Linked DNA regions of Homo sapiens. The protein of the gene in region 1 interacts with the protein of each later gene in a biochemical or structural test. Each region holds a gene or a part of one and is shown on either strand. Other genes may lie near its edges.

Region 1 (3,500 bases):
CAAGAACCTTCAAACATTTAACCTGAATGAATGAATATAACCTCTTCACGGTTCAGTGTTTTCATAAGCAAAACAAGAGAATAGCAGCATTGATGTCTTTTAAAAAAAATTTAGGGCTGGGCGCGGTGGCTCACGCCTGTAATCCCAGCACTTTGGGAGGCCAAGGCAGGCAGATCACTCCTGAGGTCAGGAGTTTGAGACCAGTCTGGCCAACAAGATGAAACCCTGTCTCTACTAATAATACAAAAAAATTAGCTGGAATGTGGTGGCACATGACTGTAATCCCAGCTACTCAGGAGGCTGAGGCAGGAGAATCACTTGAACCCAGGAAGCAGAGGTTGCAGTGAGCCGAGATCGAGCCACTGCACTCCAGCCTGCGTGACAAGAGCAAAACTCCATCTCAAAAAAAAAAAAAAAAAAAAAAATTTGGAAAGCTTCCCATTTGGGATCTGTCCACCTACACAGGGCAACACGATAGTATTGACATCTCTTAGCTTTTACGGAATTTTCTGCCTACAATGCAGAGGGCAAAGAAGGGGTATTGTCAGCTTGGCTTTGCTGTCTCTGAGTGACAGTCTCTTGTATACGTAAATAAGATGAATTTTCATAAAAGCATTGACAGAGCATTAGCTTCACCTCAGAAAGAAAATGAAAAAGCAAATGACAACTGTAGTCAAAGAAGAAATTAAAATATAGTTAAATAGTAAACAGATCAAGAAAAAATCAGTGAAAACCTTTAACTTGCAACCTATTCTTTTTAAAGACATCAGTACACAAAGATTGGGAAAGTTTATTAAAAATGTTACCAAACTTTAAGTTCTTCTTTTTTTTTTTTTTTTTTTTTTGAAACAGGGTCTCATTCTGTCACCCAGGCTGGACTGCAGTAGCACGATTTCAGCTCACCGCAGCCTCAGCCTCCCAGGCTCAAGGGATCCTCCCACCTCAACCTCCCGAGTAGCTGGGAATAAGTTCTTACTCACTCCGTTAGGTTGAGCTATTCGAACATCACTGTTTCCCATGTAAACGTTGAGACCTTCATTAGGCTCTCCTTGCTTACCCTGCCATTTCACTTCAGGTGTCACCACCTTTAAGAAGCTACCCCTTGCCAGGTGTGGTGGCTCACACCTGTAATCCCAGCTCTTAGGGAGGCAGAGGCAGGAGGATAGCTTGAGCCCAGGAAATTGAGACCTGCCTAGGCAATATAGCGAGACCCCATTCTCCACAAAAAGGAAAAAAGCAAACAAAAAACAAGCATAAGAAGCTACCCTTGAACCCACTGTATCCTCAATCTGATTTTTGAAGCTGATTCCTGGGAGCCCAGCATCCTGGCACAGAGGCACTGCTAAGGCAAAGGCATTGGTCTGCCCTCCCCACCAACTCTGAGCTCTTCAGGGGCAGGAATATGATATATACAAGCAGTTCATTTAATCTCTACGAGCTGAAATGATTCATTTGTCTTAATAATGCTGTCATTTTAAAGTACAGAATTTGAGAGCTGGAGGGAATCTCAGATACCAATTATTCCAACACTCCACTCTTTTCTGAGGCTTTAAATGACTTGCTCCAAGTTAGAAAAGAATCAGGACCCAAAGCCAAACCTTGAAAATGCTGTTCTAATGCTTTGTGCCTGCATCCCATGCCACCTTGCCTTTGTAAATTCACAGGATTAAATAAGGGAATCCTAAAAAAATGTGTTCAATTCCCCCTTCACTTCTAACCCTGGTCAATTTTACAGGCAAAGAAACACCACTGGAGGCAATGAAGGGCCGTTCTCACAATTACATGGTTCACAGCAGAGCTGGGATGAAAACTCGGATCTAATATGAGGGACCATGTTCTTCCCACTATCTCATAAAAATTCAACTTTCAAGTACAGGTCATGGGTGTAGAGCAAAGGTCAGCATGGCACAGGGGCCAAATCCTGTGGGCCACCTGTTTTTGAGTATGGCTTGCAAGCTAAGAATGGTTTTTACATTTTAAAATGGTTATAAAACAAGAAATCATACTTTGTGAGGTATATGAAGTTCAAATTTCAGTGTCCACGAATAACGTTTGGTTGGAACATAGTCATGATCATTTGTTTAGGTCCTGTTTATGGCTGCTCTTGAGTAATAGGGCAGAGTTGAGAAGTTGTGAAAGAGACCTCAAGAAATGAAACCACACACCTAACACCATCTGATCTTCAACAAAGTCAACAAAGTAAGTAATGGAGAAAGGACTCCCTATTCAATAAATGGTGCTGGCTAGCCATATGCAGAATAAAATTGGACCCCTATCTATCACCATATACAAAAATTCATTCAAGATGGATTAAGGTTTAAATGTAAGACCTCAAACCATAAGAGTCCTAGAAGAAAGCCCAGGAAATACCATTCTGCATCAGCCTTGGGAAAGAATTTATGACTAAGTCCTCAAAAGCAATTGCAACAAAAACAAAAATGACAAATGGGACCTAATTAAACTAAAGAGCTTCTACACAACAAGAGACACTATTAAGAGAGTACAAAGACAACCCTCAGAATGGGAGAAAATATTCACAAACTACGCATTTAAGAAAGGTCTACAAATCAACAAGCAAAACAACAAATAACCCCGTTAAAAAGTAGGCGAAAGATATGAACAGACACTTCTCAGAAGAAGGCATACAAGCAGCCAACAAACTTATGAAAAAATGTTCATCATCACTAATCATCAGAGAAATGCAAATCAAAACCACAATGAGATAACATCTCACACCAGTCAGAATGGCTTTTGTTAAAAAGTCAAAAAATAACAGATGTTGGCGAGGCTGCAGAGAAAAGGGAACACTTACACACTGTTGGTGAGAATGTAAATTTGTCCTGCCACCGTGGAAAGTAATTTGGAGAGTTCTCAAAGAACTAAGAGCTGAACTACCGTTCGACCCAGCAATCCCATTACTAGGTATATACCCAAAGGAAAATAAATTGTTCTACCAAAAAGACACCAAACCAGATATTGAATGTTCTCACTCATAAGTGGGAGCTAAACATTGGGTACAAGTAAACTTAAAGATGGGAGGCTGGGTGCGGTGGCTCACGCCTGTAATCCCAATACTTTGGGAGGCCAAGGCAGGAGGACTGCTTGAGGCCAGGTTTGAGACCTGTCTGGGCAACATAGCAAGACCCCGTCTCTACAAAAAAAACATAGTAAAATAAAATAAAATTAGCCCAGCGTGGTGGCTCATGCCTGTAGTCCCAGCTACTCGGGAGGCTGAGGCAGGAGGATCACTAGAGCCCAGGAGTTCGAGCTAGCAGCGAACCATGATCATGCCACTGCACTCCAGGCTGGGCAACAGAGTGAGACCTTGTCTCTAAAACAAATAAAATAAAATAGAAACAAAGGGTTTGGATAAAACTGATGCACTACCTTCATTCTGTCACATTTTCATGCTTTCATGCTGACTGAGAGGGCACTCATCCTGGGAGTTCATGCCATCCAGATGGGCAGGGGTTAAACTGAGACCTGTCTAGGTTGAAAGA
Region 2 (3,500 bases), on another chromosome or scaffold:
CCTCTCAGGTTCAAGCAATTCCCCTGCCTCAGCCTCCCGAGTAGCTGGGACTGCACGTGCACGCCACCACGTCCGGCTAATTTTTTTGTATTTTTAGTAGAGACAGGGTTTCACCACATTAGCCAGACTAGTCTCAAACTCCTGACCTCAGGCAATCTGCCCACCTCGGACTCCCAAAGTGCTGGGATCACAGGAATGAGCCACCGCGCCCAAATTTTTAATTTTTTATAGAGATAAGGTCTCCCTATGTTGTCCACGTTGGTCTCGAACTCCTGGGCTCAAGCAATCCTCCCGCCTCAGCCTCCTCAAGTGTTGGGATTTTAGGCGTCAGCCACCATGCCCAGCCAGATACATATTTAACAGAAGATTGTAAGTTAGCTTAAGAAATGAGTGCTCTGACAATCTGTCTACCAATTGGAAAAATTTAAGTAACTTTTTAATTTATATTCTGAATAAAATATAGCCACAAAGAAAGGCAGCTATATGTCGTCACATGTAAATATCCCTAATAAATATCTGATAAAAGAAGAAAGTAGGCCGAGCACGGTGGCTCACACTGGTAACCCCAGCACTTTGGGAGGCCAAGGTGGATGGATCACTTGAGGTCTGGAGTTTGAGACCAGCCCGACCAACATGGTGAAACCATGTCTCTACTAAAAATACAAAAATTAGCCAGGCGTGGTGGCGGGCACCTGTAATCCCAGCTACTCAGGAGGCTGAGGCAGGAGAATTGCTTGAACCTGGGAGGTGCAGGTTGCAGTGAGCCGAGATCACGCCACTGCATTCCAGCCTGGGCGACAAAGTGACTCACTCCGCGCTCAAAAAAAAAAAAAAAAGAAGAAAGTAAGTCACAAAACAAAATGTGTAAGGTGATCCTATTTAGAAAAACAAACAATATGTTATACTATCCCTAAAGCACTCTTGTTCTTTTGCTGTCCTAAAGTGAAGAGAATGGAATAGGGAAAAGGCTTGGGGGAAAGGGGACCTGTCCATGTTTATTGTCTAGACTTCTTGAATGACTGAATGGAATATTTAGTTAATATAAAAATATAATTTAGAATGATTTCACAAAACAAGCCATATACTTATTTTTCTCAGATGTGATGAGGCCTAATATTTGAAACTTATAGGTTATACTGTGACATTATGGAAGAGCAAATAAAAGAAAATGAATACCTCTTTAAAAGCAGCCATTTGCTTCTGGATTCGGTTTACAAATCGCCATTGTATTACAAGACTAAAAAGAAACAACATTTCATTTTCATGTGAACCAAGACAAAATTCTGAGGCACAATTATTCTAGTTAGAAACAAAAACTAAAGGCTAGCTGAGACCAAGGTAAAAGCTGAATATGAGTGCTTGCTACTGCATTGTGATAGAGAAAAAGAACACTGAGATTCTGGACAAGGGGACAGAGAAAGATGGTAAGAAGAGTCTTTCTGGAATAAAGTACAAAATTATATCCAATAAAATACATACTAATAAAATACTTACTAAATATATTCCTTTTTGTTCTTATTGGTGACAACTATTTCTGATCCACCATTTTTCAGCTCATGTTGATGTGTCTAAAATTAAACACAATAACTTGATATGTTATTTTAGCGAGAAAAATTTAAAAAGTATACATATTGTAGTTATACGAGAAACTTGGTGTTTTAAATTAAGTCCAGTCAAAAGTTAAAAACTAAGAAAACTTAAAATACTAGTTTTACTAAAATAAATATGGAACGAGTCAAATGTTAAAGAAAGTACAAATTCTTGCTCAGAGACAGCTTTTGTTACTGGGAAATGAATGTAAAAACAGAGCCTAGGAATGTATTAAGTGTACGTATTAACATCTAAACATTTGTCTCACAATTTATGTGCCATTTTAACTGATCAAAATTCACAAACCTGTCCAAAAAGTTCTTCATCTATGATAAACCTGAGGTCCAATTCTGTTGGGTCATTTTCAAGAATCCATCTTAGGGAATTGTAATATTCACTATCCTAGATGGGAAAAATTACATATTTAAAATTTGTATCTATAACACACCTGAAATTGCAAAAAACAGTATGTAGAGGGTCTGAATAATTGGGTAAAAGATGAGAGGTCAGATGGACATCCTTTACTTACACACATATATAAACAAAAATGTATGTGTGTATGTGTGTGTATTACAAAAAGAGATGGATGACAGGTAAGGGCAAGAGTAAAAATGCATCAATCAATTAATCAATTGGTGCCTACTTAAAAGTTTAGAATCTATGTTTATGTGGAAGCAGTGGAGGTACAGATTTTATCATCCAGTTAAAGGAATGAATACAGAAGTTTTCAGATAAAACCTAACTTCTCTGGATATCCAGGAGCACTTAGCACATTCCTCATATGCCTATGTGACTTCGTGTTAAATGTTTTATTTTTATTTTTTAATTTAATTTTTTTTTTTTTGAGACAGGGTCTCGCTCTGTCCCTTAGGTTGGAGTGCAGTGGGGCGACTGTGGCTCACTGCAGCCTCGACCTCCTTGACTCAAGTGATCCTCCTACCTCAGCCTCCCAAGTAGCTGGGACTACAGGCGCGCACCACCACGCCTGGCTAATTTTTGTATTTTTTGTAGAGACAGAGTATCACCATGTTGGCCAGGCTGGTCTCAAACTCCTGACCTCAAGTGATCCACCTGCCTCAGCTTCCCAAAGTGCTGGGATTACAGTTGCACACCCCTGTGTCCGGCACTAAGTGTGAAATGTTTAAGTAGCTATGAGGAGGCCATTGTTTATACCCAGCCCGAGTTAAAGAAAAATCTCTTAATAAATATAGAGGCTCAATGAACCAACTCAAGTAACTGTGCAATCTTATGATTTATAAAGAATCACACTGTTTGTGCTGTTAATATGTAATAAGAAAAGAATAAAAAATGAACTTGGTACTAAGGAAGATGCCCTGGAATTCATGTGAACACACATTGTGTGAGGCTATTCAGCAGCACAGGAAACAACACGGCTACAGTCCGGGGTTTAATCCTTGGGCTTCTGTTTTTTTCTAGGAACCTAACCATAACGCTTTGCCTTTCGACTGCCATTTAAAAAATATACACCATTTGGCCAGGTGCGGTGGCTCATGCCTGTAATCCCAGCACTTTGGGACGCTGAGGCAGGCGGATAACGAGGTCAAAAGACTGAGACCATCCTGGTGAACACGGTGAAACCCCGTCTCTACTAAATATACAAAAATTAGCTGAGTGTGGTGGTGCGCGCCTGTAGTCCCAGCTACACAGGAGGCTGAGGCAGAGAATTGCTTGAACTTGGAAAGCAGAGGTTGCAGTGAGCCAAGATCACGCCACTGCACTCCAGCTTGGCAACAGAGTGACACTCTGTCTCAAAAAAAAAAAAAAAAAAAAAAAAAAATATATATATATATATATATATATATATATATATATATATATAACATTCATCATAAAAGATCATAATGCAAATACTGATTCAAAAGACATATAACTTGGTATAACCTATTGAA

What was found. The genes of interacting proteins can lie anywhere in the genome.
Region 2: the proteins of MAP3K5 (region 1) and NEDD4 form a complex in vitro, tested with the Homo sapiens proteins (2 studies listed by BioGRID, with this or other methods).

What each region holds. Positions count from the first base shown.
Region 1 is NC_000006.12:136,785,978-136,789,477, forward strand, and holds part of MAP3K5 (mitogen-activated protein kinase kinase kinase 5), read right to left. Parts: intron 78-3,500; exon of another isoform or gene 1-77. UniProt on the Homo sapiens protein: Serine/threonine kinase which acts as an essential component of the MAP kinase signal transduction pathway. Plays an important role in the cascades of cellular responses evoked by changes in the environment.
Region 2 is NC_000015.10:55,836,613-55,840,112, forward strand, and holds part of NEDD4 (E3 ubiquitin-protein ligase NEDD4), read right to left. Parts: intron 1,993-3,500; coding exon 1,897-1,992; intron 1,569-1,896; coding exon 1,495-1,568; intron 1,238-1,494; coding exon 1,177-1,237; intron 1-1,176. UniProt on the Homo sapiens protein: E3 ubiquitin-protein ligase which accepts ubiquitin from an E2 ubiquitin-conjugating enzyme in the form of a thioester and then directly transfers the ubiquitin to targeted substrates. Specifically ubiquitinates 'Lys-63' in target proteins.